Regions from separate parts of the Homo sapiens genome. Here regions 1, 2 and 3 are each reported to be linked to region 4. The links are microRNA targets in miRTarBase. Many come from high-throughput screens and were not tested one by one. Region 4 holds a microRNA gene; each other region holds the end of a gene's coding sequence.

The links. Region 4 holds the annotated microRNA hsa-miR-452-3p (CUCAUCUGCAAAGAAGUAAGUG, at 1,416-1,437, opposite strand). A microRNA usually pairs through its seed, bases 2 to 8, with sites in the 3' UTR of a target mRNA and lowers its output. Matches are read on the target gene's strand: a 7mer-m8 pairs with bases 2 to 8, a 7mer-A1 pairs with bases 2 to 7 and ends in A, and an 8mer does both.
Region 1: the mRNA of PARP15 is a reported target of hsa-miR-452-3p. Seed matches in the 3' UTR shown: 8mer at 2,308-2,315 and 7mer-m8 at 4,832-4,838.
Region 2: miRTarBase lists PIWIL2 as a target of hsa-miR-452-3p. Seed matches in the 3' UTR shown: 8mer at 1,695-1,702.
Region 3: the mRNA of HSBP1 is a reported target of hsa-miR-452-3p. Seed matches in the 3' UTR shown: 7mer-m8 at 2,924-2,930.

What each region holds. Positions count from the first base shown.
Region 1 is chr3:122,633,878-122,642,249 of GRCh38, forward strand. It overlaps PARP15 (poly(ADP-ribose) polymerase family member 15), which reads left to right. Exons shown (of 12, transcript NM_001113523.3): 11 at 1,143-1,317; 12 at 1,934-5,170. The coding sequence ends at 2,223. Among named protein-coding and RNA genes, the nearest start is that of PARP14, 43 kb to the right of the region's middle. RefSeq lists an enhancer at 1,216-2,415.
Region 2 is chr8:22,354,733-22,362,457 of GRCh38, forward strand. PIWIL2 (piwi like RNA-mediated gene silencing 2) reads left to right here. Exons shown (of 23, transcript NM_018068.5): 23 at 617-2,836. The coding sequence ends at 773. Among named protein-coding and RNA genes, the nearest start is that of SLC39A14, 8.7 kb to the right of the region's middle.
Region 3 is chr16:83,808,717-83,816,641 of GRCh38, reverse strand. It overlaps HSBP1 (heat shock factor binding protein 1), which reads right to left. Exons shown (of 4, transcript NM_001537.4): 2 at 7,896-7,925; 3 at 7,217-7,337; 4 at 1-5,221. The coding sequence ends at 7,219. Among named protein-coding and RNA genes, the nearest start is that of HSBP1, 4.7 kb to the right of the region's middle. RefSeq lists enhancers at 2,179-2,690, 2,691-3,202, 3,203-3,714.
Region 4 is chrX:151,958,219-151,963,218 of GRCh38, forward strand. It overlaps MIR452 (microRNA 452), which reads right to left and starts at 1,494; the gene lies at 1,410-1,494. It overlaps GABRE (gamma-aminobutyric acid type A receptor subunit epsilon), which reads right to left. Exons shown (of 9, transcript NM_004961.4): 4 at 4,205-4,425; 5 at 3,065-3,147; 6 at 1,621-1,758. MIR224 (microRNA 224) reads right to left here and starts at 440; the gene lies at 360-440.

The DNA of each region.
Region 1 (8,372 bases), not on the chromosome of region 4:
AGTCCCATAACCTACCTTCTCTGCTGCTGCTCTTAGATGAAATCCTTACTAATTCATGGTCCCCAGCCTCAGCTGGACCCTCCAGGCTTCCTGGAATCCTTCATTGCTTCCTCCAGTCAACCCCCTCACACATTCCCCATTGCAAACCTTCGTTACTCTCCCGGAGGCCTCCACTACTTTCAGCAGAACAACTTTCTCACCTGCTTTTATGGCTTGGATTCTCCTCAACAGCTGCCCAGGTACTCACTCCATTCTTCTTGAACCTCTCTTCTTCCTCTGTTTCCAGAACATCATCCTCTCAGATTTCCTCCTCCTTCCCCAGACACAGGTTATCTGGAGCCCCTTCCTATATTTTCATAGCCCCTTGTGTGTTCTCCTGACCATCCCTTATCACTCTGAGCAGTAGTGATTAGTTTTCTTGTCTTGCCCACCACCCCCATGCCATTAGACTGAATGTTTCATGAGGACAGAGACCCAACACAAACTTGATTCATAGAGATGTTCAGTAGGTGATGACTGAATGGATGTTAACTCCATTTCCTAGGAGGAAGGAGAACCAGTAGAGGGTGATATTTTGAAAAGAAGTGAAAGAAGAGCAGAGTTTTAAGAAGGGGATGGCTCGTGGTTTGAAATGCTATTCAGAGGTCTAGAAAAAAATAGTCATAAGATTAGGCAATTATGAGGTGATCTGTGACCATAATTGGAGCAATAACAGAAAGAATTGTTATGAGGAGAAGCCACATGGAATGAGTTGGAAGATGAGGAGTTAAGGACATGGCTATTGAATGACTACAAATTTTTGAGTAGGTGTTTGAATGTCAGTGAATCTCCAGGAATTCCAGGGAATATATGTTGGTAATCATTTAGATATAAACCGCAAATTATGTTATTTAAAATATATACCAACAAGCACTATTACAAAGCATAGACACTAATAGATACTTTTAGCCCATCTTTCTCTAAAGGCAGAAAGCTGCCTACTCTCTGAATTTGCTGTCTATTTGTATTTTCTTCTCCTTTTCCTTCACCAAATTCTCTTCCTCTTCCTTCTTTTTCATATTGCTTATTTTAAATCCACAACAAGTACAATATACTGAGCCCCAAGGTCCTTTCTGAAATATTTTGTCTTTTGTTACCTGCAGATTGAGAGGATACAGAATGCATTTCTCTGGCAGAGCTACCAGGTAAAGAAAAGGCAAATGGATATCAAGAATGACCATAAGAATAATGAGAGACTCCTCTTCCATGGGACAGATGCAGACTCAGTGCCATATGTCAATCAGCACGGCTTTAATAGAAGTTGTGCTGGGAAAAATGGTAAGGAAGCAAGTAATTTGGCTGATCAGAATAAGGCAAACAATAGTCTCAGACTTTTCATACCCAAGCAGTGTGGAACCATGGTGGGCAGCTGTATTATCACTGTCAGAATAGAGCTCACTGTGTTTCACTGTAAAGGAGACTGGCAACCTTCTAAGGGAAGATGGAGTGAATTTTAGAAATGATGAAAAATAACTTTAACGTGCAGTTTTTTTTTTAATGGGCTTTTTTTTTTAGACGGTCTCATTCTGTCACCCAAACTGGAGTGCAGTGGCAAGATCATGGCTCACTGCAGCCTTGATCTCTTGAGCTCAAATGATGCCCCCACCTCAGTCCCCTGAGTAGCTGGGATTACAGGCATGCACCACTATGCCTGGCTAATAATTTTGTTTTATTTTTGTAGAGAAGGGGTCTCATAATGCTAGCCAGGCTGGTCTCGAACTCCTGGCCTTAAGCAATCCTCTTGCCTCAGCCTCCCAAAGTGTTGGGATTACAGGCATGAGCCAACACACCTGGCTAAAACTGCATTTAGAAAACAATTTTGTCAGATTGGGCATGGTTCTACACATTGTGTAATTTTATATTCTTAGGAAGGTTTTTGTCTTTCTCTTTCCAGCTGTATCCTATGGAAAAGGAACCTATTTTGCTGTGGATGCCAGTTATTCTGCCAAGGACACCTACTCCAAGCCAGACAGCAATGGGAGAAAGCACATGTACGTTGTGCGAGTACTTACTGGAGTCTTCACAAAGGGACGTGCAGGATTAGTCACCCCTCCACCCAAGAATCCTCACAATCCCACAGATCTCTTTGACTCAGTGACAAACAATACACGATCTCCAAAGCTATTTGTGGTATTCTTTGATAATCAGGCTTACCCAGAATATCTCATAACTTTCACGGCTTAAAAATATTTTTATCATCAAAGAGATGATTTAAGTCATCTGTAAGAACAACATGCAATCTTTGTCTTTGCTTCTGGCCTGTGTAAGCAGATGAAAGTTTCCCTTTTAGGTGCCAAAATGCTGAAAATTACCTTTTTAAAGTGCTCTATTGCTGCGATTTGTAGCATACCTTTTTTTCTCAGCAAATTGATGGGTGGAAGCTGAGAAATGTATGGTAAATGTCACAGAGCTACAACCATTCACAGACACCAAATCTCTAGGAGAATAAAAAGCACATTATTCTTTTTCTATCAGAAAAAAACAAGATGCATCACCTTAAAACCAAGATGACATTGTTCTTCTTGGAACATGTTAAGACATCGAATGGTGGCGGGTTAAACTGTACTGCTTAAGTGGAGCGGCTACCGTTATGCATCTATCACAGTTGGGGATTTTGCCTTATTAAGGAAAACTTGTCAATAGTTCAGCTGAAATGACTGAATCACAGAATATTAACTCTGTTATGGAACAAATCATAACAGATTTTACCTGTTTACATTTCAGGTAAAAATGTATCGCATTGTTATCTAATATTAAAAAATTACCCCCAATTTTAGTGACTTAATCCCACACAGTCTTTATGGGTCAGGAATTCAGGCATGGCTTACCTGGATCATTCTGCTAGGGTCTCTCTGAAGTTACAGACAAGATGTCAGGGGATGTGGTCGTTTGAAGGCTTGTCTGGGCTGGAGGTCTATTTCCAAGGTGAATCACTCACATACCTGGCACGTTTCTGTCAGGTATTGGCAGTCCTCAGTTCCTCTCCTCTCAGGCCTCTCCACAGGCTGCTTGAGTGTCCTCATGACACAACAGTTGGCTTACTCCAGAGTGAGCAACTCAAGAGAGAGCAAGGCAGAAGCTACCAAATCTTTATGTTTGAAGTCATGCACCATCTTTTCCACGAGTATCCTGTTGATTATTTTGATCAGCTTGTTCAGTCTGGGAGGGAATTGCACAAGGGCATGAATACTCCACTGGCAAGGATCATTGGGGGCCATCTTGGAAGCTGTGTGAATGAGCAAATGAATGCACAGATAGAATATTAGCAGTGACAATGATGCTAGAGGTCACCTACCCCACTGTCCTCTTGTCCTTCTCCCCCAACCCTCCCCTGCTCCCAGGCAAGAAGCCCTCTAGCCTCTGCTTGATCACTTTCAGCACTCAACATCTTCAGGGAACCTATTCCGCCGTGGGACAGTGTTAATTAGTGGAAAACTCTTTTTCAAAAGTTGAAATCAGTTCCTCTGTGTCTATTACCTGCTGATCACTGTCCAGACTTCTGGAGGACACAGAGCAAGTTTTATTCCTCTTACTGATGGTAGCCTTTCAGATCCATCCCTTCCCTCCAGTATATTAGAGTTACGTAAATTCTTAAAATGCTTAGCAGCTCATTTATCCTGAAGCATCACTTTTGAAGAGTTACAGACATTTAAGAAGTATTTACATTATCATAAATAAATTACATGCGCATTTAAAGAGAACAGAAAAGTATAAAGAAAAATAACTCACCAAACTCACTCATAATTCCAGCACTAAGGGAAAACCACTGCCAATTTCTCATGTCTCCCTTCCAGTTTCTTCTCTGTCCAAATTCAACAAAGTCAAAATCACATTTTGTTCTGTCACAAATCATATAATATTATTTCTACCATTTTTCTTTTTTTAATCTTTTTTTATTATACTTTAAGTTTTAGGGTACATGTGCACAATGTGCAGTTTAGTTACATATGTAAACATGTGCCATGTTGGTGTGCTGCACCCAGTAACTCATCATTTAGCATTAGGTATATCTCCAAATGCTATCCCTCTCCCCTCTCCCCACCCCACAACAGGCCCCGGTGTGTGATGTTCCCCTTCCTGTGTCCATGTGTTCTCATTGTTCAATTCCCACCTGTGAGTGAGAACATGTGGTGTTTGGTTTTTTGTCCTTGCGATAGTTTGCTGAGAATGATGGTTTCCAGCTTCATCCATGTCCCTACAAAGGACATGAACTCATCATTTTTTATGGCTGCATAGTATTCCATGGTGTATATGTGCCACATTTTCTTAATCCAGTCTATCATTGTTGGACATTTGGGTTGGTTCCAAGTCTTTGCTATTGTGAATAGTGCCGCAATAAACATACGTGTGCATGTGTCTTTACAGCAGCATGATTTATAATCCTTTGGGTATATACCCAGTAATGGGATTGCTGGGTCAAATGGTATTTCTAGTTCTAGATCCCCGAGGAATCGCCACACTGACTTCCACAATGGTTGAACTAGTTTACAGTCCCACCAACAGTGTAAAAGTGTTCCTATTTCTCCACATCCTCTCCAGCACCTGTTGCTTCCTAACTTTTTAATGATTGCCATTCTAACGGGTGTGGGATGGTATCTCATTGTTGTTTTGATTTGCATTTCTCTGATGGCCAGTGATGATGAGCATTTTTTCATGTGTTTTTTGGCTGCATAAATGTCTTCTTTTGAGAAGTGTCCGTTCATATCCTTTGCCCACTTTTTGATGGGGTTCTTTGTTTTTTTCTTGTATATTTGTTTGAGTTCATTGTAGATTCTGGATATTAGCCCTTTGTCAGATGAGTAGATTGCAAAAATTTTCTCCCATTCTGTAGGTTGCCTGTTCACTCTGATGGTAGTTTCTTTTGTTGTACAGAAGCTCTTTAGTTTAATTAGATCCCATATTTCTACCATTTTTCATTAAACATTACAAGTTGTTCTCTTGTGTTCTTATTTTTTCTGTAAACATAATTTTAATGGCAGAGATATTCTGCTTTATATCTTTCCCTATTTTATGTATATAGAATTATAAAGTTTTTAAAAATGTAATCATCATTATTTATAGTTTAATAATCAGTTTCATCTTGCAGTGTATCATTTTCCTCGTCATTAAATATTTTACGTATCATTTTTAATGGTTGCACCGTATTTCATTGCCTGTTTCTACCTACATGTCATGTCAAAATAAGGTACCTATATTTTTGATAAATATGAGGTTAGAATATGAGATGCAAAGATCCTAGTCTACCTTCAACAAGACAGTTAAAATGCTCTATTGCTGCAATTTGTAGCACGCCTGAAGGAAATATAGTCCCAGAGAACAAAGTATGGTTAAATAATGCAGTTCCTGCCTGGGCCTTGGTTCTCAATACCAGTGCAGAATTCTAGTGAGCCATGTTAGAACAAGAAAGGACTCCTAGCCTGGGCAACATAGGGAGACCCCATCTCTACAAAAATAAAAAAATTAGCCCAGCATGGTGGCGCATGCCTGTGGTTCCAGCTGCCTGGGAGGCTGAGGTGGGAGGATTGCTTGGAACCAGGGGGTCAAGGATGCAGTGAGCTATGATCCTGCCACTGCATTCCAGCCTGGATCACAGAGCAAAACCCTATCTCAAAAAGAAAAGACCCTTTTACTTAGGTTAGGTGGACTCTTATTTACAATGTCTGCTGCTGACTTGTTGCCTCCTCCAATGTTGTTACTCAAGGATGTTGTTCCCCAGTTTATTTTGCTGTACCCTTACTTCAGGAGTAAGACACAGAAGCTTTGACTACAGTGGGCCGGGCGTGGTGGCTTATGCCTGTAATCCCAGCACTTTGGGAGGCCGAGGCGGGTGGATCACAAGGTCAGGAGTTTGAGACCATCCTGGCTAACACAGTGAAACCCCGTCTCTACTAAAAATAGAAAAAAAATTAGCTGGGCGTGGTGGCGGGCGCCTGTAGTCCCAGATACTCGGGAGGCTGAGGCAGGAGAATGGCGTGAACCTGGGAGGCAGAGCTTACAGTGAGCCACTGCACTCCAGCCTGGGCAACAGAGTGAGACTCTGTCTCAAAAAAAAAAAAAAAGAAGTTTTGAGTAAAGTATACCCATGTTATTAAAGTTGTTATTCTTTCTTGAGGAACAAACTATGAACCAATCAATAATTATAGTTATTTAGAAATTCTACCTTCCATCAGTCTGAAGCTAAATTGTATCTTTCCATCCTTTAAGTCCATCTCCTTCCCACTTGGCTTGATGTTTTCTCTCTATATGACTAGAATGGTCTCTACTTTTATCCTAAGAACTAACTGTTATCTAGCTTAGTATCAAAATTAGAAGTCTTGTCAAACTGTTAATTACTGAAGAAATCCATCTCTTTTCTCTGTATCTTCAGAGTTCAAGCAAATGGTACCTGATTAATCCAAGACCAGAGACCATGAGCTCTAATTCTGGACTGGCAGCCTTCTTTCACGGAAGGCTTCACGGTCTCAAATATCTTCTCTTATTGCTTTTCTTACCATTCTTCTCCTTCTTATTCCTTTTTTTGTTTCTTTTAATTCTTTCTCTCACTTGTGGAAAAAAAGGACACACACTCTGCTTGGATGAATCAGAGGAAATATTTTCATTTTTTTCTGCACCAATAGTAGATAGCCACTCAAATTCCACATAGTATATATGGTAATGTATTAATTGAACACAAGGTTTACAAATTCATTTACAGTGTGGCAGGTTATCACAGGGCTGGTGAGATCATTCATAGCTAGTATGATCAAATTCAATTTCTTTTGAGTACTTTACTAGAACAAATACAGTTTCTTTTAGTAAATAAGCTTTATAGTAAATATGCTTTACAAGATTAATTGATTAAATTATTACATATCCTAGCTTTGGTCTCACCACATTAGTAAACATAGGAAGGGAATCTTGCAACTAAATTCAAAGTATGAATAACTTAAAAGACCTTTGGCCCATTTCTCTTTGTTTATGTTATTTTTGTGGTCACTAGGATATAAATATTCTCTAATCTTCTTTTCTTTATTTCACTGAGAAGGGCATTTTCTACACAGTATTTAATTCCCTTAAGTCTCTTGTTCCTAAAATTATCACCCTATAACTAAGACCTATCAGAGGAGTGATTTTGGCTTCCACAAAATCCAACCACCTCTTCAATCTGAGCTTTTCTTTACACGTGCTTAATGTGTTCTTGTCTCTTCACACCTAGATGGCTCAACTCTCAACACCTTTTTCACATTCAATTTACTCAATTAGTACAATGCGAGATCAACCCTCCACCTAAACGGAAAAAAAAAATAATGAAAATGCTTCTCTTTAGGTCTTTGTAGTTTATGGTGTTAGATGGAGCTCTTTTTTTCATATTAATTCCACTAAAATTCCAATTAAAGTGCCTGAGATAAGGGAAGTACCAATACAAAAAGAACAACATAAAATTAACAAATCTGGGGCCAACAACAAAAACAAAATTTCAGTGTAAATTCAGGATAAAACAAGAACCCAGAAAGTAAAAGTAGGAGTATTAGAATCTAGAACAGATAATGATAAACATCATAGAGCAATAACAATTTTATAATGTTCTATTGTTTTTTGTTTTTTGTTTTTTTTTGTTTTGAGATGGAGTCTCACTCTATTGCCCAGGCTGGAGTGCAGTGGTGCCATCTTGGCTCACTGCAACCTCCACCTCCCGGGTTCTAGCGATTCTCCTGCCTCAGCCTCCCAAGTAGCTGGGATTGCAGGTGCTCACAACCACGCCCGGCTAATTTTTGTGTTTTTAGCAGAGTCGGAGTTTCACCATGGTGGCCAGGCTGATCTTGAACTCCTGACCTCAGGTGATCTGACTGCCTCAGCCTCCCAAAGTGCTGGGATTACAGGTGTGAGCCACCATACCTGGCCAAATCTTCTATTGTTAACAGAGGTTTGTTTGTTCTTTTTTTTTTTTTTTTTCTTTTTTTGAGACGAAGTCTCTGTTGCCCAGGCTGGAGTATAGTGGTGCAATCTCAGCTCGCTGCAACCTCTGTCTCCCAGGTTCAAGTGATTTTCGTGCCTCAGCCTTCTGAGTAGCTGGGACTAGCATGTGCCACTATGCCTGGCTAATTTTTATATTATTAGTAGAGATGGGGTTTTGCCATGTTGTCCAGGCTAGTCTCGAACTCCTGATCTCAGGTGATCTGCCCACCTTGGCCTCCCAAAGTGCTGGGATTACAGGCTTGAGCCACTGCCCCAGGCCTTGTTTTTTACTCTTGAGACAGGGTCTCACTTTGTCACCCATGCCAGAGTGCAGTGGTGCAATCATGGCTCACTGCAGCCTTGACTTCACAAGCTCAAGTGATCCTCCCATCTTAGCC
Region 2 (7,725 bases), not on the chromosome of region 4:
TTTCTTGTAAACAAGAAATATTTTCTCTTTGTGTTGTTTTCGTATAAAAACAGGAGGCTGGGTGCGGTGGCTCACGCCTATAATCCCAGCACTTTGGGAGGCTGAGGCAGGCGGATCACCTGAGGCCAGGAGTTCGAGACCAGCCTGACCAACATGGCAAAACCCTGTCTCTACTAAAAATAGAAAAATTAGCTGGGTGTGGTGGCGCATGCCTATAATCCCAGCTACTCGGGAGGCTGAGTTGGGAGAATCACTTGAATCCAGGAGGAGGAGGTTGCAGTGAGCAGAGATTGTGCCATTGCACTCCAGCCTGGGCAACAGAGCAAGACTCTGTCAAAAAAAAAAAACAAAACAAAAAACAACAACAACAAAAAAAAAACAGGGAAATGCCTCAATTGAGAAGATTTACCCATGTCGTCTGACTTATGAATAGTGGGAATAAAAACAAGTCCATTTAAAAATAGTGATTCTAAAAAGCTGCATCATGTATTCCTCTGCTCCCCAGTTTTCAGGAAGGTGTGCTCTGTGTCATATCCCCGTGACTATTGTATTGTATTGCATGCCACAAATTGAAGGTGGGGGATGATGAGAATTATATTTTCTTCTTGGCCTACAGGCTGACTTTCAAACTGTGCCACATGTACTGGAATTGGCCTGGCACCATCAGAGTTCCAGCTCCTTGCAAGTATGCCCACAAGCTAGCTTTCCTGTCAGGACACATCTTGCATCATGAACCAGCCATCCAGCTGTGCGAGAACCTGTTCTTCCTGTGACTGCACAGCTTGGAGATGGGCTGGTGAGAAGAAAGGCGGCCTCAGAACTCAGCTGTGACTCTTGCAGAATCAACAGAGACTGAAGTGGGCTTTTGTGTTATAATTTTCCCTTTCTCCAACCCTGTAGAATAAGATTTCTTTCTTGTCTTTTAAACCTAATATCACCAAGAAGCAAGTTTCTGAGTAACAGCTGAAAATGGCCTTGTTGCCTGTGTAGAGCAAGTTACGGTGGTACTGCCACTCTGCAGGTGGAGCGGGTGACTCTGGGGGACCATTAAGACCTCCAGACCGGGTGCGGTGGTTCACACCTGTAATCCAAGCACTTTGGGAGGCCGAGGCGGGTGGATCATGAGGTCAGGAGATCAAGACCATCCTGGCCAACATGGTGAAACCCCGTCTCTACTAAAATACAAAAAAATTAGCCGGGTGTGGCGGTGCACGCCTGTAGTCCCAGCTACTCAGGAGGCTAAGGCAGGAGAATCGCTTGAACCCGGGAGGTGGAGGTTGCAGTGAGCCGAGATCACGCCACTGCACTCCAGCCTGTTGACAAAGCAAGACTCTGTCTCAAAAAAAAAAAAAAAAAGCCAACATGAGCTGCAGAAACCAGCAGAAGCAGCCATTATACTTCTAAGCTGTGCCAACTAAGTGGTTCCCATTTCTGGAGCCAGAGATGATAATTAAGTCATTGCAAGTTGCCTGAAGAGAATTACTCAGGCAACTGGGAAAGGCAGTGGAAGGTCTGTGAAGCAAAGTTTTCAAGTAGATATTGCTATTACTGGCAGGTGTGCAAGGCGTGTAGTAAAATCAGTTTGTGGCATAGGTCGGCCCTTGCTGACTAAATCCTCTCTGGGGATTGAATTGATGACGACTGTGACTTGAGTTGGATTCGAAAATGGCTTCCCTTGGCCTCTTGAAAGAGTGCAGATGAAGCCTTTTCCGTGGATTTCAGTAACTTTCCAGCATACCATGACGATTTCTTCCCCAAATATACACATGCTCTTTTGCTCTTTGTGCCTGATCTTCAGTAATTTTTAGTTTTTTAACAGGCAGAAAAAATCTAGCAGCTAGGAAAGTTCAAGTTGGGGTGGGAGTTTTTAGTGAACTTTTCTCCCAGGTGTGTGGCCTTTATTTCTATTTATATATGTTTGTAAATGGAATTACCCCCTTTCTCTTGCAAAATAACCGCTTCCTGGCTGTTGGCTCACTTTGCTGGAATTTTTCTGAATCCAGGTTAAGATTTCCAGAAGTCAGCTTTGGAAAACGTGACACTCCTACCAAAGTCCAGATGGTTAGAAAGTTATCACATACCATGGGTTTCAGTGTTTTTGGAAACCCGTTTTTTTCTGGTTTTTTTTCCCCCCTCTCCATTTTAGAATCTTCTCCCAGTCCCTTCGGGCCTAGTTCTGTCTCATCTTGCTTTATTGGGTTTTAAAAACCGGTCTTATTTAAGCTTTTCTAATTTGTATTTATGTACTTATTTATTTTTTGGTATGATGGCAGGGAGGGGACAAAGCAGAAATACCCCTTTTATATGACAATGTGTGAGAAAAGAAACTTTAGCTTAAAACTCCGTAAAATGTGCTCACTTCAGCAGCACATATACTAAAATTAAAATGATATAGAGAAGATTAGCATATAGAAAAAAAGAAAAAAGATTTCCTTAAAACAAGAAAACCAAGAATGTTTTTGGTTTGTTGCGGTGCCCAGCCGAGGTTGAGGAGGGATGGGTATTGTTGGTGCACTGCTGGTTTCATTTGGAGTGTGGGACATTAGGGTGAGACAAGGACCTGGAATTTAAAAACCACAGAATCAAACACTGTGAACCACTGGTCTCTGGCTAAGCAGATCAGTTTTCTGATTTTCCTTGGAAGCGTTTTGAATTTTTCTGTTGAAGTTGGATTTCCTAATACTTTTTTTCTCTTAGATAATCAGAACAAATGGTTGAATACATTATAATACAAAAATTTCTTCACTTTTTATTCTTGGTTTTCTTGCCTCGTTTTTCGGTTTTAATGCCAAATGATTGGGTCATGGGGTGGGAAATAAAAACAACTTTGTATAAATTTGTAGTTGTGTTTGAAATAATGTTGTTTATTTATTATTATATTGATGTAACTCTTTTTCTTCAGAGAGCTGCAGCACTTCCTAGAAACACTCATTACTCTGCTTGTAAGTTGCAACTCCAGTGTTAGTAGCCAGGTAATTTCATCATCAGCTGGGTAAGAAGACTTATTGAAAAAAACAGTAGCCACCTCACTTCTCAGACAGATGAGGCACTTTGTGTGTGTGTGTGTGTGTGTGTGTGTGTGTGTGTGTGTGTGTCTGTGTGTGGTTTTTAGCTCTCTTTCTCCCATCAGACAATTTCTTTTACCCTAAGTGAGAGCCAGAGTGTGTCCACTTGCAAGGGCAGCCTCCCCACCGCTCCACTATTTTAACGCTTGCCCTTTTTTACATATACCTCACGGGGTGTCTGTCACCATTGAAATACCTTCCCTGGGTACAAAAATCCCATTAGAAGGAATAAGATCTAGTAGTTCAGTGGCACAGTAGAGCAACTATAGTTAACAAAAATTTATTGTACATTTCAAAATAGAGGAGTGGAATTGGAATGTTCCTAACACAAAGAAATGATAAATGAGCCGGGTGCCGTGGCTCACACCTATAATCCCAGCACTTTGGGAGGCTGAGGTAGGTGGATCATTTGAGCTCAGGACTTCAAGACCAGCTGGGCAACATGGGAAGACCTTGACTCTACAAAATATAAAAATCGGCCAGGCTTGGTGGTGTGTGCCTATAGTCCCAGCTACTCAGGAGACTAAAGCAGGAGGATTGCTTGAACCCAGGAGGCAGAGGTTGCAGTGAGCCGAGATTGTGCCAACTCACTCCAGCCTGGGTGACAGAGCAAGATTCTGTCTCAAAAAAAAAAAAAAGATAAATGTTTGAAGTGATAGCCCAGTTACCCTGATTTGATTCTTACACATCATATGCTTGTATCAGAATATCACATGTATACTATAAATATGTACCACTACTATGTATCCAAAAAATTAAAAATAAAATTTTAAGTACCTTCCCAAAGCACCTAGCTGCTCACTTAAGCACTGCATTTCTTTAGAATACTACAGTTTCCCTATTTATTTAGAAACTCTGTGCTTCCTGAACTCATTCTAGAAAGAACCTCATTTCTGTGCAGTAGTCTCTTATCCATGGGGAATACATTTGAATACCCCCAGCAGTTGCCTGAAACCTCAGATAGTACTGAATCCTATACGGTACTATGTTATTTGAATCTGAAACTCAGGATGTCTATTAAGTGACTAATGTGTAGCATCACCGGTGTGGATACTCTGGACAGACATGATTCATGTTCACGGGGGATGGAGTGGGACAACGTGAAGTTTCATCACACTACTCAGAACAGTTTGCAATTTATAACATGAATTTCTGGAATTTTCCATTTAATAGTTTTGGACTTTGGCTGACCAAGGGCAACTGAAACCTCAGAAAATGAAACCATGGAAAGGAGGGACTGCTGTACGGTGTGACAGGGTCCTTTTTACTTGGGCAGCATTTTGTTGAATGATGTGAAAAAGGAATTTTAGAAATGACTATATATTTTAAAACCTTAAAATTTGGGCCTGAAATTAATTTCTCTAGAGGTTTGGGATTATTAGAGAAGACCCTGTTTTTTCTTTCTGGCTCTATGGCTAGCTGAGTTACTTAGTAACTTTTCCTGCCTAGAGTTTTCTTTTTTTCAAAAAATGAGGAACATCAAGAGCTTGAGAAGAAAAGCCACAGACTGAAAGAAAATATTTGCAGAATACACATCTGATCAAGGATTGTTATCCAAAATATACAAAGAACTCTTTAAACTTAATAAAGAAACTAGTCAGTTTTTTTAAAAATCGGCAATAGACCTGTACAGACATCGCCAAAGATGCACAGATGGTAAATAAACGTATGAAAAGATGCTCCACATTATATCTCCTTAGGGAACCACAAATTAAAACAAGGCACCCATTCCATACCTGGTAGAATAGCCAAAATCCACAACACTTAACCACGCCATATGCTGGTGAGGTTGCAGAGCTGCAGGAACTGGTACAGCCACTTGAGAAGAGAGTTCTTAATAAAATTAAACAGGATTACAAAACCACATACATAATCTTATCATATGGAGCAGCAGTCATACTCCTTGGTGTTTACCCAAAGGGGATGAAAACTCATGTCCACACAAAAGCCTGCACACGGACATTCATAGCAGCTGTATTCATCGTTTCCAAAACTTGGAAGCATCCAAGATGTGCTTCAGTAGGTGAATGGACAAACTGCACCTGGACAGTGGAATATTATTCAGCACTAAAAGGAAATGAGCTATCAAGTCATGGAAAGACACAGAGGAACTTTAATGTATATTACTAAATTGGAAAAAGCCAATCTGGAAAGGCTATATATGACTCCAACGTATAACATTCCGGAAAAGGCAAAACCGTGGAGATAGTGAAAGGATCAGCAGTTTGGTCGGGCGCAGTGGCTCACACCTGCAGTCCCAGCACTTTGGGAGGCCGAGGTGGGTGGATCATGAGGTCAGGAGTTCGAGACCAGCCTGGCCAACATGGTAAAACCCCGTCTCTATTAAAAGTACAAAAATTAGCTGGGTGTGGTGGTGGGCACCTGTAATCCCAGCTACTCGGGAAGCTGAGGCAGGAGAATCGCTTGAGGCAGGAGGCAGAGGTTGTAGTGAGCTGAGATCACGCCATTGCACTCCAGCCTGGGCGACAAGAGAAAAACTCCGTCTCGGAGAAAAAAGGATCAGCAGTTGTGGAGAGAGAGACGAGAGATGAATGGGCAGAAACAAAGGATTTTTAGGGCAGCGGAGCTATTCACTGTGATGCTGTAATGGTGAATACATGTCATTATGAATCTGTCTGATCCCACGGAATGTACACTAAGAGTGAACCCTGATGTAAACTATGGACTCTGGGTAATATGTCAGTGTAGGTTTATCAGCTATAACAAACTTACCAGGGAAGAAAGGAGAGGGGAGTGGGGGAGGGGAGAAGGTTAATATTTGTTACAAGAAGGAAAGGGAAGCTGAGTGGTACTAGCACAGCTCCCAGGATTCTGGTTTCATTCCAGGTAGGGCCAGGACATACACAGCCTGAGCCCCTGCGAAGTGCAGGATTGCTACAGCTGAGTCTCCTGCATGAAGAGAGCTGGAAGCTGGAAGGGGACTAGAGAACCCCTGCCAATCATGCTGGGGCGGCCGCAGGGAAATGTGGTGTTTGACCAGGGAAATGGATAGGGCGAAAAAGACATCCATGAAAAATCCCCAAGCCTGGGCCACATACAGATAGACGTGTGTAGCCTGAATTTTTGTTACCAGCATGCTGAAGGGCCACAAGCTGAAAAATTAACATAAAGATTGACCCAGACTGGTGAAAGTTCCAGAGCCTTGTGGAAACCAATGCGGTCCATTAGATTGCAGCACAAAGAGGTATAAATAGGACCTATGGAAGAGAAGAGACCAGAGAGAATGAGCAGGTCCAACATGTGTCTGAGAGAAGTTCCTGCAGGTTAAAATAGAAGGAATGGGTGGCACACAATATGGAAGATGCAAAGACTGAGAATTTTCCAGAATGAAAGATACGTGCCAGTGTGGTGGCTTATACCTGTAATCCCAGCACTTTGGGAGGCCAAGTTGGGTGGATCACTTGAGCTCAGGAGTTTTAGACCAGCATGGGCAACATGGTGAAACCCTGTCTCTACAAAAGAAATAAAAAATTAGCCAGGCATGGTGGCACATGCATGTATCCCAGGTATTCAGGAGGCTGAGGTGGGACGATCACTTGAGGCCAGGAGGTTGGGGATGCAGTGAGCTGTGATCGCACCACCGCACTCCAGCCTGGGTGACAGAATGAGACCTTATCTCAAAAAAAAAAAAGAAAGAAAAAGAATCGTCTAACTGAAGAAACGTACTGGGGATAAAGAAAATATATCTGGCCGGGCGCAGTGGCTCACGCCTGTAATTCCAGCACTTTGGGAGGCCGTGGTGGGCAGATCACCTGAGGTCAGGAGTTCGAGACCAGCCTGACCAACATGGAGAAACCCCGTCTCTACTAAAAATACAAAATTAGCCAGGCGTGGTGGCGCATGCCTGTAATCCCAGCTACTCGGGAGGCTGAGGCAGGAGAATTGCTTGTACCCGGGAGGCGGAGGTTATGGTGAGCCAAGATTGCACCATTGCACTCCAGCCCAGGCAACAAGAGCAAAACTCCATCTCAAAAAAATAAAAGAAAAGCATATCCATTGCTAGATAAACTATAGTGAAACTATAGAACATGAAAGACAGAATCGTGAAAACAAAACAGCCAGATATGATCCAGCAATTCCACTACTGGGTATATACCCAAAGGAATTGAAATCAGTATGCTGGGCGGGGCATGGTGGTTCACACCTGCAATCCCAGCACTTTGGGAGGCCAAGAAGGGTGGATCACTGGAGGCCAGGAGTTCCAAACCAGCTTGGCCAACCTGGTGAAAACCTGTCTCTACTAAAAATACAAAAATTAGCTGGGCGCGGTGTTGCACGCCTGTAATCCCAGCTATTCGGGTGGCTGAGGCATGAGAATCGCTTGAACCCTGGAGGCAGAGGTTGCAATGAGCCGAGATGGTGTCACTGCACTTCAGCCTGGGTGACAGAGCGAGTCTCTGTCTCCAAAAAGAAAGAAATCAGTATGCCAAAGAGATATGTGCACTCACATGTTCATTGCAGCACTGTTCACAATAGCCAAGATATGGAAACAACCTGAGTGCCCATCAACGGATGAATGGATTTTTAAAATGTGGTACATTTACACAATGGATACTATTCAGCTTTAAATCAAAAACAGGACATTCTGTCACTCATGACAACCTGAATGAACTTAGAGAACATTATGTTAAGTGAAATA
Region 3 (7,925 bases), not on the chromosome of region 4:
AACCTGAGTTGTGACAACAAAAAAACAAGAACCACATGGCTCAACCTATCATGCGGGTCCTGTTTGCCAGGATCATTTTAGGCACAGGAGTGGGGTGGAAACACCTTCAAAGAAACATTTTCTTCACTCTTAGGAGACAAAAGGGAAGAAGAAAGGCATTCTCTGACCGGATGCACCCAGGTGGAACAAATCTGGGGTTGGGTCTTTTTATTTTTTATTTATTTTTTTGTTTTTTATTTTTTGAGATGGAGTCTCGCTCTGTTACCCAGGCTGGAGTGCAGTGGCACGATCTCGGCTCACTGCAACTTCCACCTCCTGAGTTCAAGCGATCCTCCTCCCTCAGCCTCCCGAGCAACTGGGATTACAAGCGCCCACCACCACGCCTGGCTAATTTTTGTATTTTTAGTAGAGACGGGGGTTTCGCCATGTTGGCCAGGCTGGTTTAGAACTCCTGACCTCAGGTGATCCACCCACCTCGGCCTCCCAAAGTGCTGGGATTACAGGCATGAGCCACTGCGCCCGGCCGGGTCTTGCTCTTAGTTTTACTGAGGTGCAGAATTTACTCGCCCCAGAGCTGCCCTCCCTTGGGACTTCTTGCCATGTGAAATAATACATCCCACCATTGTTAAAAGGGCTGATTTTTGCTATTGGTAGCTAAACGCTTCTAAGCTGCTGGATCCTGAATCCAGACTATTCTTAATTATTGGGAAGCAATACTGTTCTCTTTTGGAAGGTGGACATTTTGCAAGACCAACGTGACTAAATGGTCAAATTCTGTTTTCTACGGTAGAGACACAGAATTTGACCATTATTAGATCATTATTGCGAAGATTATTATTGTGAAGCAGGACAGTCAAGAGTGTTCTTATGAGGCAGGGCAGCATCTACACGATAGGTATGTAGTTCATGTATGTGGTGTCTACATATGCTTTGGTAAAATGAAGCTCTGTTGATGAGACAGCCACATATTACATTTCATCATTCTCAGGGATCCCACAGAGGCTGATGTTGTACAGCTTTCAGGATCACTCGAACCCTAGGCAGCGGTCTGAGGAGCTTCCAGCCACCTCTTAGTGAGAGCCTCAGGTGTGAGGACCAAGCGTTAGGATCCGCCCTTTTTTTTTTTTTTTGAGACAGGGTCTTGCTCTGTCACCCCGGCTGGAGTGGAGTCGTCCGATCACAGCTCACTGCAACCTCGACTTCCTGGGCTCAAATGATCCTCCCACCTCAGCCTCCTGAGTAGCTGGGAGCACAGATGTGTGCCACCACACTCTGGGCTAATTTTTCTACTTTTTTGTAGAGATGGAGTCTCAGTATATTGCCCAGGCTGGCCTTTTTTTCTTTTTTAAAATACTGTCATCCTGACTTGTTGAAACAAACCCTTTTCCTATTTCCATATTAATTTGTAGGGTTGATAAGTGCAATGTTCAATCACAATTCCTCTGGTTTTGTTTTTGGGCAGTGACTTGCATCTCCCCTCCCTCATTTTCATTCATTGAAAAGTTCTCAAGTGGCTGCAGCTAAAATCAGACACTTAAAATTAATGCAAGATTAAGATTCCAGGTGATGGCTTCTTCATGAGTCCATTTAAAAGTCTTCGTTGCAATAAAAAAAAAACACCACAAAACAAAAAACAGTGAAATCCAATAGGATGGTAAGCTAATAGGTCACGGAGTGGCGGGGGGGTGTCTTTTTATCCCCCGGGTTGGGCCTCAAGCAATAATTTTTGTGGGAGACAGGACAGGTATAGGCATGGAAAACCAATGTGAAAACCTGTGGTTCATATTCCCCGTGGTTGTGCTCTGGGCAAATGTTTGAGGAATGTCATTTGTTTCTGTTGTTGTTCTCAACTGATTTAGGAGAAAAAAGGCACTGATCCAGGAGCACACATTTTCTACCAGCTCTGAATAGTTTAAATTCCAAATAAAAACTCACATCCAGTGTGTTTATTACTTAATTTTAGGTCATGTTTAATTGAAAACACTCCATCAGCCTTTTGAAAGTAAATTTTGAGATCCAGCCAGTGGGGCTGATGATTTCCAGACAGCCTGGACAGCTGAGATTCGGAGCTCAGCTCACACGAAGAGGCAGACGATCAGCTGTGTTCGTGAGCAGTGCAGGTGTGCAGCTGTGAGACGGTCAGCTGTGCTCGTGAGCGGTGCAGGTGTGCAGCTGTGAGACGGTCAGCTGTGTTTGTGAGCGGTGCAGGTGTGCAGCTGTGAGGACATTCCAGGGTCATCATTACCAGCTGTGACCTTGTGCCCCTGACTCCCCGTCTTGGGTTCCTTTTCTTTAAATATGACTCATCAAATGAAAACCTCTCAGTGTTGTTGTGAGGATTAAGCCAAACAGTGCAAACAAAAGGCTTAGCACAGTACAGCGGTTTACAGTCAATGCTTTCAATGGCGCTAGCTGTGAACATTTGGTAACTGTAACCAGTTAACTTTCAGGGCTAGATATGACAACACATCCTGCAAATTCCTCCATTTTAATCTAATCAAAATATATAATGTGCAAAATACAAAATAAAAGAGGAACACAGTGTCTGCTTGGGAAGGCTTCCATTTACAAACAGCATGTTGAAAAAGTTCACTTTTGTTTGGAGGACTCTATGTTCCCATAGCAACAGTGCTCTAAGTGTGTGTGTGTGGGGCTTAAATTCCAAGGACTCACAAGGGCAAATTAACTCTTAGTTACGTGAAATATTGTGTTAGTCCTGATAGGGTTAAACAATGACTGTACTTGTAGTGAAACAAAGAAAAAATTGATATGAAAATAAGATTGAAATATTTTAAAATCCTGTGGCTCAAAGGAAAGCAGGATGAACTAGGGGCCAAATGAAGAAGCTGTGGGGCCTTGGGGTTTGAGACAGGGCACTTAATTAAATGTAACGCTGTTTTCCTTGGTGCGAGGGCCCCCATACTCATCTGTATTGTTCAGCCCTCAAGAGAATCTTCACTGGCTGGTAAACGAACAAGAATAGCTGGAGAAGGAATACTTCATATAGTATAAAAAAGACCCTTGGACAGGCATGGTGGCTCCAGCCTGTAATCCCAGCACTTTGGGAGGCTGAGACAGGACTGCTTGAGCCTAGGAGTTCTAGACCAGCCTGGGCAACACAGCAAGACCCAGGTGCGGTGGCACGAACCTGTAATATTAGCTACTTGGGAGGCTGAGGCAGGAGGACTGCCTGAGCCCAGGAGCTTCAGGCTCCAAGTGAGCTATGACTGTGCCACTGCACTCCAGCCTGGGCAACAGAGCGAGACCTCGAAAACTAGCAGGTGAGCAGGTTAAAGCTGAGTTCTCTGCTCTACTTTCAGAGTCTTTAATATGCTAATTTCTTCATGAGGTTCACAGAATGTCGTCTAAACCCAAGTGACCATAACCCCTTCCTTCCTGCAGCATCTCCAGGGGCAAGAGTTCTGGGAACACACCTGAGACAAGTCTCCTGCAATGCCAGTCTTGGCAAGCCCTCCTCCCGCTCCTCAGCTTCCCCTTCCAGCAGGCAACCTCCCCCAACACCCCCTCTCCTGCTTTGCCTTGGGCTACTTGTACTTAATCCGTCCAGAGGTTTTAGTTGATACTCTAATGTGATTTCTGCATTTCCATCTGAAAACCAAACAGATTTTTGACACAAAGGAAGCTTCATAGCAGGATTTCAGGCACCTTTATTCATGGCAGATATTTTTGGTCAGGGCAGCCTGCCTTTGAAATCGTTCCATTACTTGAGGAGGTCGACTCCTGCCTAAGTCACAACTCTCCTACAACCGCAACCGGCCATATCATTTCCATTTGCCACTTCCGAGGCTTGAGAACATCACCAGGGACGCAGGTTTCGGATGGTCTGGTCAATGCTGCAGTGTGTGTGGGGCATTCGGGGGCTCCAGCCTGCATCACAACCTACTGGCCTGATCAAAGGAGGTTCTGTAGTTGGGTAACCAGAGTGGTGAATTCATTTTATCACAGAAGGATCTCACTCCTTTATGTTCCCCATGTAATTTGTATACAGCACAAATTATTTCTTACTTTGATAGATTTGCAATATAAACACCAAGACTGGTGAGATGAGAAACTTAAAAAAATCATGTTTTTCAAATTTTCAAGTTTTTGTGTAAAAGCACTTTGTGGTGACAATCATATGGATCACCTTCCAGGTCATCAGTATTGGCCTCTAGGTTTAGCACTCCTGGCACTGCATTTTTGAGTGGCCAGAGATAAAGGTATTATCCCTGTCTTCTATAATCAATGATAACATTGACACTCTGCAAGAATTTAGATAAGAAACAGTTTAAGTAAAATAGTGTTTTTTAAAAACTTGAGTCTACTACAAGTCGTTGATCATATTCTAGCCAAGCAACTGGCATGGACTTAATATGGTCTCTTTTCCTTCTCTCTTTCTTTTCAAGTCACTAGCTCAAAGGAAAGACTGATTGAGTTTTAAAATCCTGCCAGATTTTTTATGGTAACCATTGTAGATGAACCACGTAGGTAGGGTCCTACTGAAGTATTAGAATCTCATGCAAAACTCTAACAAACGCCTCATTACAGAAGGCTATTCTGTTATTTTCTGTACTGTAAAAGTTCTGACACAAGACAGTGGCAGTGGTTACTTTTCATCGACTTTAGCATGTGATCTCAGGGACTCAGACATACGTCTAAGTTCTATTCTGAGTTTTGGCAACAGAGCAGTGACAGATATTTCTGAATGAACAATTTTTAGGTGTTTTCAGCCATTTGAAAAGTATTGCCAACACACTATTTGGTGTTAGCTCAACAGTCACGTTGTGCCAAGAATTAAAGAACTCTAAAGTCTACAAACATCTTACTTCACCAAGACTAACTATAATTGAAGGGTTTACTATTTGTTTAATAAAAAATCACACATCAACTTTTATCCAAACAGCAACTACTACAAAAGGAATGACAAGAAAAAAAATGACTTCACAGAAATACACTAAAAAATCTGACAATGTTATGCAAGAACCGCCAAAGTTTTAGTGTTTAATAATGAATAGCACAACTGACCAAGGTCCAAGATGTGAAGATACCATGTTCAAGAAACTGGGGGGAAATCACTCTACAAACTAACTATATACTAGGTGATAAGAATGCATACTTTATAATATAAAACCTGTCTACACATAGTAGTTAGCTGCAAAAAGCCATTCGATCTTCTCTTGGCTTGGAAAAATGCCAGATTCCAGTATAAATTATTAGCAACCTGTTGAAGAAGGAAAAATCATCAACATGTTTTTCATTATATGAGCACAAGTAAAAATGACATATAGACCTATCAACTACAAATCCCTTTCCACTCTCCTACTGAGTTAAACTTATTTTCTTCTGGCAATATTTTAGCAATAGATTTAACTGGAAATATCTTTAAAAGTTTCAGAGTCAGTTTCCTACTCCCACTCTTTTCTTTGAATGACCCCCATCACTAGCCAGTCTACCATCCTGAAATTCTTGTGGTAAGATAATCAGTCAGTTGATGGCAGTTTTGATTGCCACATAATATAAAAAGAGACCCACAGAAGCATCTGAGACTGGTAGGACATTTTTCCAAATTATCTCTGGATAAGAATAACGATGACATAACCCATAGAAAGCAGTTATGTGATTTACTCACACAGTGAATGAACCCCACCTACTGTGAAGATAAAAGCAAATTTTAGAGTCTGTCTTCAACATCCCAAATCTGTATTTCACAGTGACTTAAAATGTGGTCCACAGCAAGCCCAGAAAATAGGAAATTAGGCATGTTTTACTGTACATTCTGCTTAGTACTCTACGAATCTAAAAATACTCAGGAACCATTTTATTTTATTTTTTTGAGACAGAGTCTTGCTCTGTCTCCCAGGCTGGAGTGCAGTGGCATCATCACGACTCACTGCAAACTCTGCCTCCTGTCTCAGTCTGCCAAGTAGCTGGGATTACAGGCGTGCACCACCACACCCAGCTAATTTTTGTACAGACAGGGTTTCACCATGTTGGCCAGGTTGGTCTCGAGCTCCTCACATCAACTGATCTGCCCTCTGCCTGCCTTTGCCTCCCAAAGTGCTGGGATTACAGGCATGAGTCACCACGCACCAGTACCTTTTTTTTTTTTTTTTTTTTTTTGAGACAGAGTCTCACTCTGTCGCCCAGGCTGGAGTGCAGTGGCGTGACCTCGACTGCAACCTCCGCCTCCCTCAGCAACATTCATTTTTATAGAGAATTAAAATGTTATAAATGAAACAAGAGAAAAGTGAGTCTAAAACTTATTTTTCACACATACAGAGGAAAAGGATCACCATGCACTCTGCTGAGTGATTCTGTACATTTACCTATCTTGCTGTGTAGGTACTTTGAATTACTAGGCTTTCCTCTGACATCTGAAACTATTCAGAGGAAATTTAAATGAACTCCAGGGTAAAAGCTTAATGTGGCCACAATCTAGTTCACCTATGTCAAGTTACCAAGAAAGTCTCCAGAATTTAAGCCATTTAAGAAGGTGGTAATGTGGGTGACTTATCAGTTATTTCCATAAAAAAAAAAAAAAGCAATGGAAAATCTTCCAGTGACAGGCTTTATAGGCCAACAAAAAGACACCTTAATTATTAGCTGGAATGATAAAAACTCAGTGGTTATCTAATGTTAGCCAGTGGTCTTCACTAATAGTGACAGAAGTCTAATTAATAAAAACTGGGAAAATAAATTCGGTGTAAAGAATGAGTTTGGCATGAAAAATTTCAAAACATCAAGTCCACAGCAGGTAAACAATACAGTGATGCTTGCTGGGATCATGGCTGGGAACTGATCTACAGAATGTCTGACTACATACAAATTATACTTACAGGTTCTCTCTATTCTTTTAAGACAAAATAAAAAAAAAGACCGGGCACGGCGGCTCACACCTGTAATCCCAGCACTTTGAGAGGCTGAGGCGGGCAAATCACTCAAGGTCAGAATTCGAGACCAGCATGACCAACATGGAGAAACCCCGTCTCTACTAAAAATACAAAATTGGCTGGGTGTGGTGGCACAAGCCTGTAATCCCAGCTACTCGGGAGGCTGAGGCAGGACAATCGTTTGAACCCAGGAGGGCAAAGGTTGCAGGGAGCCGAGATCGTGCCATTGCACTCCAGCCTGGGCAACAAGAGCAAAACTCCGTGTCAAAAAAAAAAAAAAAAAAAAAAAGAAAAGAAAAGAAAAAAAAAATTGCCCCCTTCCTCACCTTCAACTCTTTTGCGTGGCAGGTATCTTGTTTTCACTTTCCAGTTCTTCCACCCCAGCCTGTGTCATGAGGTCCGCGATATTCTTTTCCAGATCATCAATGCGACTACTCATATCATCAAGTGCTGAAGTTAAAGACAACGCGTGCCAACATCTCATTGAGCCTTTTTCCTCCCGTCCCTGCAGACTACAGCCTTAAACACAACGACTTTAGGGAAACTGGTCTTCCAATTTTCTTTCGACACTGTTACACGCTGGTGGGTAAGAGTACAGGACTGTGGGGCATGGCTACCCCGCATCGGATTCCAGCCCTGACCCTTACTAGTGATGGAACCCCTAAACCTCAATTTATTCATTTGCTAAAGATGATAACACTACAACCCACTCATAAGGTCATGCTGAGCATCAAAAGACACACACAAAAGCGCTTAGTTCACAGTGCATGGTCCACCACACCAGCTATTAGGATTGGTAGACGTATGCTCCTTGAGCCAGGAGTCTAACTCAGCTTTGCCCCTAGCTCTCGGCGCAGTCCTTCTCAGAAACACAGTACAATCCAAGCTCAAATTCTACAAGTGAATGGCTGAAGCTAGCCTGAAAACTACTCATTTATCCCCACCACTGCCCGGCAAATAGGCTCCAAAGGCCCACAGGAGGCCGACTGCAGATAAAAAGGATATTTCTCCCAATGATCTGGTCAGACATGGTCT
Region 4 (5,000 bases):
AGTGAAGGGCAAGCCTCTCTCTGGAGGCAGGGCTGGACTCTCTTAGAAGCTCCTGAAGCAGAGATTCTCTGGATCAAGGTCCAAGATGGCCAGAGTAGCAGGCTACCACTGCATTCTGAACCCTTAATCGCCGAGCACGTAAGTATGCTCCAGATGGAGAGACCTGCCCCAGGGCCCAACTGGAAGAGTTTGAGACCAGTCCCAAAGATAACTCTGACATTGAAGGAACCACGTCTCCAGATCAACTAGTCTCCAGCAGAGGAGAAAGAAGACCTCTTTTCTCCTCAAGAATCCTCCTCACTCCCAAGGAGGTCTGGTGCTTACCTACTGTCATTGCTTTGATGATGATGCTGGCTCTGGGGCTTTGTAGTCACTAGGGCACCATTTTGAAACAATGCACAATCATCTACTAAACGGAACCACTAGTGACTTGAAAGCCCCTGGGCCTTATCTTCTCTGTCACTTTTGATGATGGGTCCCCACCTATCCGGGAAAAGCTGAGGTGCAGAAAACCAAGAGGCAGGCCCATGGTTAGCTGGCAGAAGAGCAAGGCTCCCAAGTCAAAGGTAGTAAAACCGCTTCCCCAGAGTCCCCAAGAAAAAGGGCAAGTATTTTTAAGGTAGCCCAGCCCTCTGCCCCTGCCTAATACTGTGCAAGCAAAGCTCTAGCCACATGAGCATGAGCTTTCCCTCATCCAGAGACTGACTCAATAAATGAAACAAAAGCAGATTTTCTGCCTAGTCACATGGTAGCAGAACAAGATGCCTCTCACGACAAATGGCTGGTTGGGTGACTGGCTCCATCCACATTCTGGAAACGATGAGGGCAGTGCCTTCACTGCCCTGAACTTGGTCAGGATGTGTGAAGAGTGTTTCCAGGGTTGCTCTGGGAGCTACCCTGGGGAGGTCCCTTGGCTCCTCATTCAGGTCACCTAGGAACATAAGTGAAGGTGCTCACATCTAATTGGGAGCTGAAGTGTAAGATACCCAGGACCTTCCCCTTTAGTCTTTGTCAGAGAAAAGGTCAGAAAACCAGTGGCCACTATGTCTATGTGGAATCCACCATGAAGCCTTTGATAAGAATCTGTGCTTTTCAGACTTGTTCCTTTAAGATAAATGTCAATGCAGCAGCCAGTGTAGCTGCTGTAACTTCCTCCAGACTTTCCCAGCCTTAAACTAGCTGACATTAGAACTCTAGCCTCCACCTCCCACTACAATGGACTTTGCTTCCCATTCAACCAGACTGGATTGGTTCTGGGTATGGAGAACTCACACGAGCTCCATTCCCCAAAGTCATCCAAAGAGGTCAGAGTTGTAACCTCGAAACTGAAGGGTCTGCATGAAAAAGCCAGCTGCACATTCCGACAGCAGCAGAACTTTATCTACTTACCTAACCTCTCAAGGAGCTTGGCAAAGCACTTACTTCTTTGCAGATGAGACTGAGACATAGTTACAAAGTCTCAGTTTCCTCTGCAAACAGTTGTAAGTGCTTAGCAATTATAAGACAGGAGCCATGTCTTACAATGTTTGCACGGGATGACTGCAAAGCATTTGTATGGATGGCCATCTCCAATCATCCCTACCACCTTCCTGGACTTCCGCCAAGCCCTGGCACGCTTACCAACTGGGGTTGTGATTATTTCAGTTTTGTTGCTCACTCCTGTAAAATCAAACTGGAAGAGCTTCCAGGAGTTCTTCTCATTGATTTCAAGCTTGAAATTTTCCCACTTGTAGATCATCTCATTCTCAGGATAGGAAACTGGAAAGGAATGTGAGAAAGAGGGTCTTATGAGACTTGGAAGCCCACCTGAGGTCTCCAATAGCATGAAGTCAGCCTGCACAATGCCTTGGAGTCCTGTCTCTGGCCTCACCAGCTGTGGGACCTTGCCTCTCTTACCTCATTGTTGAAGTCCATTCAATGAGTGCGTTTACTGAGCATTCCTCAGTATCAGGCCCTAGGCCAGAAATACAGAGATGAGCAAGGCATGAACCCTACCCTCAAGCAATCACATTTAATTTTATAAGACAGTGAGTATACTACTGTGATTTTTGGAGGAGCTCTGAAAAACCTATGTCCACAGAACAGCGGGGAAACAAAGTAGATAAAGGTCACTTGGGGACATACTCAGAAAAGACTTCATAAAGCAGGTGATATTCCCATTAAATCTTGAAACTCAAGTAAATATTCTCAATAAGAATGAGGTTGAAGGGGTTAAGGGGCAGTATAGAAAGGTGAAACACCTGGTGTATTGTGGAAAGGACAAAAGTTCAGGATGGCTAGCTCACAGAGGATGAGGTGCACAGGATTGGGTGGCAGGGTCCAGTTCATGAATGGCCTTGAGGTTCATTCTAAGGAATTTCAAATTGATCCATGAGAGTTAACGGCAGATTCGAGACTAAGAAGTGACCCAACCTAGGTGACCCTTCAGCTAGGTCACTCTGGTCCTTCTGTGAGGACAACATGTTGTCAAGGAGGCCAGTGTAGTAATCCAGGCAGAATTAAATTAATGCAGGTGGAAGTCAAAGCTGTACAGGGTGCAGAGAAATAGACAGCATCGATAGAGACTGGGAGGAAACACCAACAGGATGTGCTGATTGATTAGATGCAGGAGGTGAGGGAGAGGGAACATCAAAGTTCTTGATTTGCGCAACTGGGTGAGTGATGGTCCTCTTCAATGAGACAGATGGGAACCCAGAAGCAACACACTTGTTTTGGTGGTAGAGGTTTGGAGGAGACAATGAATTTCATTTTGGACATGTGCAGTTTCAAAGTGAAGATGTGGCAAAAGTCCAGGTGGAAGATAACAAAGGCCTAAACCAAGGTAGTGCCAGTGGAGATGGAGAGGAGCAGACATACTTGAGATACGCTTCAGAGGCACGTGGAAGGGATGAGCAACACAGTATTGTTGGCAGGAAAGGAAATGAGGGTGGAGGATGGAAGTCCTGCACAACCTTGGCAGCATTTTAGAAGAAAAGCAGAGGCAGAAAAATGTAAATGGCAAGGATGAGAAAAAGAAGGAGCCCAGCATGTTTCTGGGGCCCCAGAAACTTAAGAAGGTACTCACAGCTAGAGAAAGATAGAGGGCAAGAGTGAGAATCCATTGGAAATCTGAGCATGTGGAGTGAGCATCCGGCATCAATGGTCATCCTGGAAGGGAGAAAGGAGCCTCATCAGGCTGGCCCTAAGCACTTCCGTATCCACCCAGCTTTGGTCTAGGGACTACCACCAATGAATGGCCAGAGTCAATTTTTTTCTTTGTTTGTTTGAGACAGAGTCTCACTCTGTCACCCAGGCTGGAGGGCAGTGGCGTGATGTCAGCTCACTGCAGCCTCTTGCCTCCCAGGCTCAAGCAATTCTCATGCCCTAGCCTCCCGAGTAGCTGGAATTAGTGCCAGCACACCCTGCTAATTTTTGCATTTTTAGTGGAGACAGGGTTTTCCCATGATGGCCAGGCTGGTCTCGAACTCCTGACCTCAAGTGATCTGCCTGCCTCAGCCTCACAAAGTGCTGGGATCACAGGCGTGAGCCACCGTGCCTGGACCTCGCTAGAATTTAAGACAAAAAGCTCAAAGGAGAGATAACAAGAGAGAAAACAAAACAAAACAAAACAAAACAAAACAAAACAAAACAAACAAACAGCTTAGAAGTATCTGGTTACTCTGGGCTCCATCATTAGAGAAACGTATGGAGCAACTTCGATCGGCTTTTGTTTTCTCGCCCAGCCTAGTTTCCAGGACCTGCCAACATCCTCCCTGCTATCCCCCACACACAACCTTCCCCTGCTGGGAATTCAAGTATCCAACTTGATCTTAGGTACCTTTGCCACTACCGTGCTGCTGCTCTGCCTGAACAATTCCACCACTGTGGACGTATCTTTGTATCGAGTGCCCACGTAGGATGGAATTGTCTAGATAATGCAGTCATACTGGCACATCCTAGTTGAGGGAGCTCTGGACTCGGAGCCAAGTAACTGAGTACCAGTTCCAGCTCTGCCACAAACTTGGTGTGTGGCTTTAAGCAATATCTTTCTATTTTGAGGCCTCTATATCTGTTACATAAGGGGGCTGAGCTCATGGTCTAGGAAAGCTGGACAGGCCCTTAGAGGTATCATTCAGGATGAGATCTCTGCCCATGGATCTTTAGCTAAAATTATCAGAAGGGGAGAGAGAATTCCAGGAAGTGAGACTCCAGAGGCTTGACATACCTAATTGTGTACAACACCTTGCCATCCTTGTAGATGCGGACCATCTGGTTGGGCATGGTGATCTCATGCTCGTGGGTCCTCTTAGAATTCCTAAAAAAGGTGTCCGGGATCCATAGCTGGCTCACCACATTGCCATTCAGAACAAGAGACTCAAAGGTGTCGTTGTAACAGAGGCGTTCGTCGTACCAGGTCTGGGAGAAGATGATGTCAATGGTGTATTCCTGGTGGGAAGGACAGAAAAGCACATACTTGGGGATGAACAGAAAAAGGACATTCACATGCAAACATATTGTTTGCCACTCCCTAACCTAGAATCCTAAAGGCAATGTGGTGGAATGCATTGAGCACTAGACCAGGAAGCAGGAGTCAGATGAGGTCCCTTCTCTCTGCTCAAAGACTCTTCCAATGTCAGAACTAGAAGGGAACTCAGAGGTTACCAAGCCTAATGATCCCAAATGAGAAGTCAGTCATGCCCTGCTTGATTACCGTGAGCAAGGGGAGCTAGGTCCTCACATCATGCAGCAGTTAACACAATTCTCACACAACTCAGGACAATAGAAAAGTTTGCCTTAAACAAAGCTCCCTACTACTTTCTCTTAGAATCCCCACTGTGCTCTCAGGTAGCACATAGAGCAAGTCTAGTTTCGGTTCCAGAGGAGAGATCTCCAGAAATGATACGTCATTGAATCTGTCTTTTTCCCACATTTCTGAAGTCAGGGTGCACCTTACAATTGACACATATCTTTAATGGGGCATTTCTTATTCTTTCTTGACAGTGGCTTAAATTGGTTACGAT